Linked DNA regions of Homo sapiens. The protein of the gene in region 2 interacts with the protein of the main gene of each other region in a biochemical or structural test. Each region holds a gene or a part of one and is shown on either strand. Other genes may lie near its edges.

Region 1 (3,657 bases), on a different chromosome or scaffold from region 2:
ACATGGCTTTTGAGCTTTCTAGATACTTCTACTGTCAGACTGCTATTATTCCCTTTACATTCCAGAACTTTACATGTTCCTCTTTCAATGATAACCCTTCAAGTGACAAAACATGCTAACTGTTGCTTCCGAGGATATCAAAGGACAGCATATATGGCCATAGCAAAGGTTCAAGAAGTGATTCTCATAAAATGGAAGGAAAATTGAACAACTGAACCAAAATGCAAACACCTGTTCAACATCTCCCCAAAAGCTGATTATTTCAATGAATACTCTACATAGCATAAATAATACTTCTAAAGTAGATTTTATAAAAATTAGATGCTTTCAACATTTCTCACAACCTCACAGAAATCCAAATAAATCATCTTTCATTCCCCAAACATTCATTCTCTAAAAGGACAACACACCAATCCCACCATGATAAAAACTCTTGCCACATTTCATGTGCCTTAGAAAATACTTTACTGCACAGCTGTCTTTCCCAGGATATGTGAAGTTATTTCCATTAGAGGAGGAAACTAAAAGCTGGCAGTAAAATACAAGAAATAAAACTGACTTGGAAATGCTCAGTCTCCACCATCAGTATTTCTCTTCCAAACCATCTCATATACTTCCAATATTTTTAATGAGTTTATAAAATCTTATTTTTAAATATAAAAATTTCTTACCAATTCAAAAGAAATTTCAAGACTCCCATTACATTATATAACAACGACTCAATGTTTTCTTTTCATTTCAAAATATAAATAAGCACATGGGAGAGAGAGAAGCCACGTTTTAATGGCTTGTAAAAACTGATGAGGTTCGAGATGGGCAATTATGTTAAATAACAGATTTTTTTTCAGTCATAAGGACCTTCCTTTTCTATGTTTTTTTTTTCTCCCTCTCATTTTCCATCTCCCTCCCTCCCTCCCTCCCTTTTCTCATTCTTATTTATAGCATCAAACCCCTTTGGGGTACAATATAAACTTTGGGCACTGACTAGCATATATGGAAATATACATGCTTTGCACTTATTAAACTACCAGTCAAAAATAATGCTGTCCATCGATGTGTATCATATGATGACAGATCAATAATACCTTCACATCTATTCCTTAGGGTTGACTGAAACAGCAAACCTATGTTGACAATGATCAGCAACTCTCTTAAATATCAGCAAACCTGCCTAAGTACCAATATGGTAAAAAGCAATAGAATTAAACAGAAGAGCAATACGAATTCACAGCATGTCACCTCCATCTGTTGAAAGAGCAGGCTATATAAAAATTTTCCTTATTACATGTTTAATTTTACAGCTCTAGATACTATCTAAGTCTATGGTAGATCCAGGTAGCTAGAATACTAATTCCATCTAGAGGGCCCACAGTTTAGTTCAATGAGTTCAATTCAACTAGTTGAAAGTCTTTTCATCACTCAAGATCTCTCACAACCTAACCCACCATTCTTCCAGAAGAAATGCTTCCTCCTCTCATCCAAATCACCCCCTGTGTTTCTGTAGTGTCTTCAGAGCATGGACCATACATCCACCAGTCCCTCCTTCAAGGAAAGCTCCAGGTGTAGCAGGGAGACACAGACAAGTAAGAAGATGACGGGGGATGCATGGGTCATGCCTCCTTCCTATACACTTTCCATTTTGATTGTAAGCTCTTTAATAACAGAGCTTACAATCTCCTGCTGGGACTAATTGTACCACAGTAGGTCAGCCATTTAGAATATCAAGTCCCTGAGAATGCTGAAAGCAGAACCTCTTATGGGATCTCTTGATTGCCAAAAATCCCTTGTCATTCTGGCTCTGTGAAGCATCTGTACTCCTGAACCCATCCTCCATCCTGAACCTCTCTTTTCTGGACCTCTGTGATAACCATGTGCTTCTTCATTTTCTCTTGCCTCTTTTTGCCCACTACTCAGTCTTTAGTTGGGGTCCATTGAAAAGGTGGTGTCTATGGTTTATCTCTCTTGACATTTTTCATATTTCTGGAAAGGGGTATAAAAGGTATTTCTATCAGGATGCATGTGAGCACTGAGTGTATTAGGATGAGACAGAAGCATGGGTCCACTGGAGTAATAATATCACTGTGGAAAGCAGAGTGTTGATTGGGCTGGCTCACATTTGTCTGTGCAGCTGAACAAAGGCAGAATAATTAAGTTACTGGCTGGAAATCTGCATGGCAACCAGTACTCTGTCTGTTGATACTGTAGGTGCCTGCAGCTTTAAATATCATCTCTATGCTGTTACCTCCAAATCTCTGGTCATGATCTTCTCCACTAAACTTCAGATAAAATAGAGGTAGGTGCTCATTTGACATCTTCTTTATTTACCTATTTTACAATGAAATAACCAACAAGCAGAATAATGAAAAAAATTTTTTTTCAAGAAATGATTAAGTGGTAAGGAAGGGAGCACATTCTATTCCTAATTCAAGGAATAGAATGAAAGAAACAACATCGTGCCAAGGGCATAAAGAGCAGTTTAAAGGTTACAAGAAGAAGATGTGGGAAGGGGGTGGGGTTGGGGGAACACTACAGTTCCTGTTGTGAAAGAATTACAGTGCAATATGGTAGGGTCACCAGAAAGATGTAGCGTTCCTCATAAAATACTTCCACATTCCAAAATGAGATCTTCTCAGATTCTTTAACTGGTACAGCCTAAAATACAACGCCAGCTCTCAATGTTTCAGGGCAGTAGAAGGAACTGTGCTGATGAATAACTATTCAAATGCCCCAATAATTCAGAGATATACACTTCAGAAGTATTTATGAAAATTTCCAGGCCCAGCACAGTGCCTTGTGCCTGTAATCCCAGCACTTTAGAAGGCCAAGGCAGGCAGATGGCTTGAGCCCAAGAATTTGAGACCAGCCTAGGTAACATGGTAATACCCAGGCTCTTAAACAAACAACAAAAAAATAGAAATAGTTTTTGAACTTGTAAACACAGACTTAGAATGCCTGTAAATATTCTTACTTCAGAATGTAATAAAACACTATTTAAAAACAGAAATATAACTTCACAGTACTTGAATATTAGATGAGCTAAGATAATCAAATAAGGCAAACTATTTTCTTTACATCCCTTCTTGGCTTTCCTGAATTCCACTCACATTACATAAAAGTTGCATCTCAGACAGAAGGGATGGCTCACTCTTTCAAGTTAGCCTGAAACACATCTTAGTGCAATGTCATGGATAATTTAAGATTTATGAATCAGCGTAAAACTTTTTAGAATGGAATTTCTACCTCCTTTCATTTCTGTATTCTCCCTTCAACAAAAAGCAGGAAGAGTTGAGAAAAACAGTTGATAAATCTAGTTCCTGCTCTCCTAATGTTCACTCTCTGAAAGAGACAACACTGATGGAAACAAAGTCGAGTCAAAAAAACTTTTGGTAAAATTAACAAAGTGAATAGAAAAGTTATAGATACAAAACATGTAACATGATAAAGCTGTATTTGAATTTAGAGATAAGAAAGCAACTTAAAATGTGCCTGTTTGGACACAGGAAGGATCAAAAAGGAAAATCACATTTCCCTCCCACTCACCCTCGTAGCTAAAAAAGTTCAGTGAAGAAAGTTACGCTTCTAAGGTTTTGTTAAGCTTGAATATAGTTTGTATAGCTGAAGGTGAAGGAAAGAACACAAAAGTTTGGCAGAAAGCTT
Region 2 (3,657 bases):
TGAAAGTTTAGCTCTTGAAAGTTTAGAATTTAGTAAACAAGTCAATCTTCACCTTTTCCATAACATATTCTAATCTATCGAATAAGAATAGATTTATGAAATCTGAATACTCAACCATGCAAAAAGCTGGTTCATTAAAAAGACTAATAGAAAAAAGGCAAATTTCTGATGAGATTACACAAGAAAAAATAAAGACAATATCACAAATAAAAATGGAAACAAAACTACAGATACAAGAGAAAAAATATGTAAGTAAATAAAATCTTTATGCAATCATTTAAGACAAAATGGTCAAAGACTTAGAAAAATCTAAGAAAACTGATGAATGAAGAAATTTAATCACCAGTTTAAAATGTTCCTACTAGAAATACAAAGTGCAGATGATTTTACAGGTGAGTTTACTAAGCTTTCAAAGAATTTACCATTCAATCTTATACAAACTGTTTCCCCAGGGAACAGAAAAGGTACTATGAGTCTCATATAACTTTAATTTTAAAAAATCAAAAGGGACAGTAGAAAAAGGAAAACCACAAGCCAACTTCACTTATATCAGATGCAAAAATTGAAATAAACTTTAATATTAGCAAACTGAATCCATCAGTTTATTTAAAAATACTACATCAAAACTATGTTGGATTTAACCAAGAAATGCAAACTTGATTTAACAAAAAAAATATAGACTTCTGGGTTAAAATTGTAGCTTAAACATACACATTGTTTTTATCCTTTCCAAGCCCACTAACATAATAGCAAATGGATATTTTTTAGACATACAAGCCAGCAAGAATGGAAATAACAGCAGAAGAGACAACAGCAACAAAATTTCAGAAGCTGGAAAGCAGAAGAAAGTAACTGACTTAGCCCCAATGAACTGCTTGCAAGTTATTTAAAAAGCACGTAGGCCTGGAAGGGTTAGCACACAACTATAATCACAACACTTTGGGAGGCCAAGTCAGGAGGATGACTTGAGACCAGGAGTTTGAGACCAGCCTGGGCAATATAGTGAGACCCCTTCTCTACAAAAAACTTTTAAAAGTCACATGTGGTGGCCCACGCCTGTAGTCCCAGCTACTTGGGAGGCTGAGGCAGGAGGATTGCTCAAACCAAGGAGTTTGAGGCTGCAGTGAGTTATGATGGCACCATTGCACTCCAGCCTGGGCAACAAAATGAGACCCTGTCTCTAAATAATAATGGTAAAAAACAGGTGGACTCGTAGATACCCTCCTTAATTCTGTACCAACTGGCAGCTGCCCACCCCCCTTCCCCAGCTTCTAAAGATGGTAGACTAGCTTTGGAAGGTATAAAACAAGTCTTTAGCCTGAGGTTTACTGTCAGTTGAGAACCTGTAATACAGAAGCAGGTTAATAATTAATCACCATATGCATACTAAATGCTCAATGAGTTTTTACATGTGCATATACCTGTGTTATCAACACCTAGATACCGAACATTTCTAGCACTCCAAGAGACTAAAGATGCTATTTTTAAAAAGATAATTAATTAAAAACAAGATAAAAACTCAATAGAATTGTTGAAAGATAAAGCTGGGGAAATCTCAGAAAAAAGATAGCGAATAAGAAAACCAAGCAAAAAAGAGGTAGATGAGAAATCAGTAAGTTCAACATTCAAATAATTGGATTCCAGATGGAGAACAGAGAAAAAGAGGTGAAAATCATCAACAAAGTAATTTTTAAAATAATGTCTCAGAAATTTAAGAACAGGAACTATTCAGATTCCAAGATCCCCACATCCACTCATGTCATTGTGAAATTTCAGAATGCTACCGACATACAGAAGATCATACCAGGATCCAGGACAGTGGGGGGGACAGATAACATAAAACGGATTACATATGAAGAATTAGCAGTCAAAAAGGCTTCATAATTCTCAACAGCAACAGTGTAAGCTAGAAAAAAAACAATGTCAGTGACTGATATTCTCAAAATTCTGGAGGGAAATTGTTTCCAAATGAGAATTGTAACCCAGAAAACCAAAAAGGGCCATTCAAGTATGAGTAAAATGAAAACATTTTTGGAAATGCAAATTCTCAAAAAAATATATCTTCTGTGCACCGATTCATGGGGAGCTACCAGATGTCCTAAATGAAAACGGGATGTAAATCAAGAAATAATAAGACACAAGATACCTAAAAACACAGGATATAATTCAGCAGAGAAGCATAGGAAATTTGCAGGTTATGGATAAAAGAAATCCCAGGTTGACAGGGCTGAATCAGGAGGAGTGTAGGGTCAGGCAGGCACTGCTGTTCTTCAAGATCAGCTATTTGCCCAGCACTTTGGGAGGCCGAGGCGGGCGGATCACGAGGTCAGGAGATCGAGACCATCCTGGCTAACACGGTGAAACCCCGTCTCTACTAAAAATACAAAAAATTAGCCGGGCGTGGTGGCGGGCGCCTGTAGTCCCAGCTACTCGGGAGGCTGAGGCAGGAGAATGGCGTGAACCAGGGAGGCGGAGCTTGCAGTGAGCCGAGATCGCGCCACTGCACTCCAGCCTGGGCGACAGAGCGAGACTCCGTCTCAAAAAAAAAAAAAAAAAAAAAGATCAGCTATTTGAAGCTTTTTGACTAAACCACATACAGTGTAACTTTGTTAAAAACACTTTACATTTAAAAACTTTTTTTAAAAAGGGGGAAAAAAATGAAACTAGCCATAAACCTGTGAGAATTTTTTTCTTTCAAAATAGGAGTTAACACTAAAAAACAAATTAGAAAACAATACCATACAAACATACAAAAAAAATGTTTAAACTGCAAAAATGCTTCAGGAATACCCATTGTATATAATTACTAAATTATTCTTAATTAGCCTCTTATTAAAGAAAGCATTTCTATCTGGAAACAATGTAAACCTAGATGAAGCTAAGATACGGAGGGTTGGACTAGTTAGACTGATTCCAAGAATGCATTAAGGAATATATATTGATGTAGTTGTTTGCCACTTAATAAACATGAAACTAGGTACAGAGTAATGATTAAAAGAAGTAATTTTGGGCTGGGCATGGTGGCTTACACCTGTAATCCCAGCATTTTGGGAGGCGAAGGCGGGCAGATCGCTTGAGGCCAGAGTTCGAGACCAGCCTGGCCAACATGGCAAAACCCTGTCTCTACTAAAAATACAAAAATTAGCTGGGTGTGATGGTACACGCCTGTAATCCCAGCTATTCAGGAGGCTGAGGCAGGAGAAGCGCTTGAACCTGGGAGGTCGTGCCACTGCACTCCAGCCTGGTCAACAGAGTGAGACTCTGTTTCAAAAAAATATATGAATAATAAAAAAGTAATTTAAAAAAACACTTTGTTGACAGCTATATTGGCACCATACTTGTTCGATTATTTCATTTTTCTTAACACAATATTCCTACTTTAAAATCATGTATTTACCCTTCTTAATAACAATGCCATAAGAAATGAAAATCTTTTACTTCTTTTAGAAGAGCATATCTTAGGAGGGCAACGCTGCAGAAAAGACAGCAGTCACTGACATCACCCAATACTGGCTTCCTCTTTGAGGTTTTCTCATGAAGAATCTGGTTTAATTACCACAAAGGAACCCTTTCCCCTGCCACTTCCCCTTCTTATGGAAGCCAAGGAAAAATTAAAAAGTAAATGACTTCCCCTTTAATAACCCATCAGGAGGAAGC
Region 3 (3,657 bases), on a different chromosome or scaffold from region 2:
CGGAGAAATCAGCATGATTAGTTTCCTCACTTCAGGTCTGCAGTCAGCTCAGCATCCCTTTCCTTGGTCACCCTGTCTGCCACATCTTACATCCCCTTCTCTTGCTTTACGATTTTTTCTCTCAGCATTTACATATTTTACTTATTTATCTTGTCTGTGGTATGCCTCTCCCATTGGAACATAAACTCCATGAGGGCAGGAATTTTTAGCTGTTTTATTCATTGCTATAGCCTCTGCCTCCACATCAGCGCTTGGCACAGGGTAGAAATGCAATAAATACATGTTGGATGAATGCATGAAAAAGGCAATACAACTGCAAACAAACCTCCAAACCAGTTTTATTTAAAACTATCAATATAGTATAAAAGTAGCTTTAATTACATAGAATATAGAAACACAACTGCAAAATTAAATTATTTCATACAGTTTTGGTGCATAAAGTTTCAATAACATTTAACAATTTAAAAATATCCAAAGTATAAATTCTTGTTCTGAAAACTGTTTATTGATAAATGATTTTTCTCAGCTTTTCCCCTACATTTTGTACAGTAGCAGGTATGATTTAGCTGACTACTTGGTTTTTCAACCAATGGATATTTAATAATGATAATAATAAATGGTAGCAGTAGTAGCTAACACTTTTATAGCATGTAATATGTGCCAGGCACTGTTTAGAGAGAATTAACACATACAATTATGTCCAAAGCAGAAAAACCTAGTAAATTGGTTTCACAGCTTTGCCCATTTGTATTAGAAATATAAAAAAGCAGGTATTACAAAATGCTATCTTGCCATTATACAGCATCATCAATAGTCCCTTGGCACAAATAAGAAACATTCCCTTACTAGGTACACTTCTTTGGCAAGACACAAACAAGAGCTAAAGAAAGGGGAGAGGGAGAGAAAGTAAGAGTCTAAAATGTAATTTTGGGGGGGCTAAACATATGATAATGAGACAGTATTTGATATTTTAAAAAATGCTAGCTATATATAGTTTTTCACATTAATAGTTGTTGGTGGAAGGGAACATTTGCATACTAATAAAATCCAATTTAACAACGTTTCTATGTCTTCTAAAGCATATTTCTAGGATATCTGCACTGTCATCCTGTCCCCCTTTATTTAATAAAGTAACAGGCACTTTATTGTCTGATAATCAGTTTGATGTTTCAGATGTGATTCTGAACATATTTGGAAAAATAGGCAGCTAAGTTTGCCTTCAGAGCTTAGTTCAATATCCATTTAGAAATGAAAAAATAAGATGTGTGATTTTATTTCTTAAAAATGCAGTGCCTCTTTAACATGGAAATTACAGTGCACATCTACGATACAGCAAATAATTTTCCTTTTATTAAGATCAGTAGTCTGCTCTGCCTTTTTATTTCCATTATTGAGCGATGGTCTCATGTTTCTCTGACACCAGGAAAGCAGTTCAACACATCAAAATTTCATTAAATGAAACAAAAAGTCCCCTATGATAAAACCCTACCTTAGTTCAGTTTGTATGAAAACCTGAGGTGATCAACAGCTACGTTTATTCATAATTATCAGTATTAGAAGTAGTTCATGGTATTTTCAGGGACATATCCAGAAATTTAAGACATTTAATAAATTGTTTTAACCAAAGTGTCTTAATACATATATATGTAAATAAGCAGTCCTAAGACAGCAGTTGTGAGTCAAATGGTAGCATATGACAATATTGTGATCTTAAGGGGAAGGTATTTCAAGCTTTTTTGTTTTTTAAACAGAGCCTCGTTCTGTTGCCCAGGCTGGAGTGGCAGTGGCACGAGCTAGGCTCACTGCAGCCTCTGCTTCCTGGGTTCAAGTGATTCTCCTGCCTCAGCCTCCCAAGTAGCTGGGACTTCAGGCACCTGCCACCATGCCCGGCTAATTTTTTTTTTTTTTTTTTTTTTTTTAGTATTTTTAGTAGAGACAGGGTTTCACCATGTTGACCAGCCTGGTCTCAAACGCCTGACCTCAAGTGATCTGCCTGCCTCAGCCTTCCAAAGTGCTGGAGTTACAGGTGTGAGCAACTGTGCCTGGCCTCAAGCTATTTTCTGTAGCATTTCAAGAACCAAGGTTTTTTACCCTAATTTGAATGCCAAAATTAAGGCCCACTAGTCACTAATGGGACAAATATGTAGTGGTTTGCAACTTAAATGCTTAAGTGAAAATCTCTCAAACTGTGACACAGTGATAATAGTGTTTCTTTTAAGACCAAATGACTCAAATGGTACACCCAGTGTTTTGCAGTTAGTTTTGACTAAGCTGGACAGCTCATATTTAAGATGGAAAAATGTAGAGACCGATTTTAGATGTGCTGGTATAGCTTGTATTCAAAGCTTAAGACCTGGAGAAGAAACAGCTCAGTGTTGGAATGTCTTGGGGGCATCGAACCTCTAGGAGGATCTACAGGGTAAATGTCAAGTAAAAATGCAGTATTGATGTTCTTCCTTTCTCTCAATCTACCAAATTCTCCCAGCCAAAGAAAATTCTCCACCATTAGTTTTCTTTTCCAACTAAAGGTCAAGTAAACTATTGTTCACTAAAGTGTTCCCCCTTTGAAAAAACCCAATGCATAATGATCTATATTTCTAAGATAAAAGTTAGTATTTTTTTTTTTTTTTTTGAGACGGAGTCTCATTCTGTTCCACAGGCAGAAGTGCGGTGGTGTGATCTTGGCTCACTGCAACCTCTGCTTCCTGGGTTCAAGCGATTCTCCTGCCTCAGCCTCCTAGGTAGCTAGGATTACAGGTGCACACCACCACGCCCAGCTAATTTTTGTATTTTTAGTAGAGATGGGGTTTCACCATGTTGGTCAGGCTGGTCTCGAATTCCTGACCTCATGATCCACCTGCCTCGGCCTCCCAAAGTGCTGGGATTACAGGCGTGAGCCACCACCGTGCCCGGCCAAAAATTAGTATTTTATAAAAGAAGTCACCATAGAATTTTAGTTAACTTTTTCAGTGTCTTTAACATGATTTAGCTTTAAAAAAAGATTTACATGCAGCTTTCCTGAAATTCATGAATTATATAAAATGCATGTGAAATATACTTGAATGTGATTTTTTTTTTTGAGACAGGGTCTCACTGTGTTGCCCAGGCTAGAGTGCAGTGGCATGATCATAGCTCACTGCAGCCTCAACCGACTGAGCTCAGGTGATCTTCCCACCTCAGCCTCCCAGGTATCTGGGACTGTTAAAAGAGAGTGCTACCACACCCGGCTAATTTTGGTGTTTTTGTAGAGATGGAGTTTTTGCTATGTTGCTCAGGCTGGTCTTGAACTCCTGGACTCAAGTGATCCACCTGCCTCAGCCTCCCAAAGTGTTGAGATTACAGGCGTGAGCCACTAAGCCCAGCCGCTGAATGTATTTTAACAAAAACAAACAAAAAAAAATAAAGTTGACAAATAGTTTAAAAAATACATATATATACACACACACACATATATATATCCTAGTCAAAATTGAGCTTACCTGAAACTTAAAGAGAATCAAATAAATAAAAAGTAAGTTTAATTTTCATCTTTCCCCCTTTCCCCACAGTGAGGTATGTACTAGGATAGTTAAATTAACGAAAAGTATCTGATAAGGAATAAGTACTTGGACATTACTAATTTAGGAGGTGACCAACATGCAAGAGGCAAAAAAAAAA

The links.
Region 1: the proteins of PBK (region 2) and SIPA1L1 interact in a test that uses a peptide from one of them, tested with the Homo sapiens proteins (one large-scale study listed by IntAct).
Region 3: the proteins of PBK (region 2) and INTU interact in a test that uses a peptide from one of them, tested with the Homo sapiens proteins (one large-scale study listed by IntAct).

The regions. Positions count from the first base shown.
Region 1 is NC_000014.9:71,582,409-71,586,065, reverse strand, and holds part of SIPA1L1 (signal-induced proliferation-associated 1-like protein 1), read right to left. Parts: intron 1-3,657.
Region 2 is NC_000008.11:27,824,257-27,827,913, forward strand, and holds part of PBK (lymphokine-activated killer T-cell-originated protein kinase), read right to left. Parts: intron 1-3,657. UniProt on the Homo sapiens protein: Phosphorylates MAP kinase p38. Seems to be active only in mitosis. May also play a role in the activation of lymphoid cells.
Region 3 is NC_000004.12:127,723,395-127,727,051, reverse strand, and holds the end of INTU (protein inturned), read right to left. Parts: 3' UTR 315-3,657; downstream 1-314. UniProt on the Homo sapiens protein: Plays a key role in ciliogenesis and embryonic development.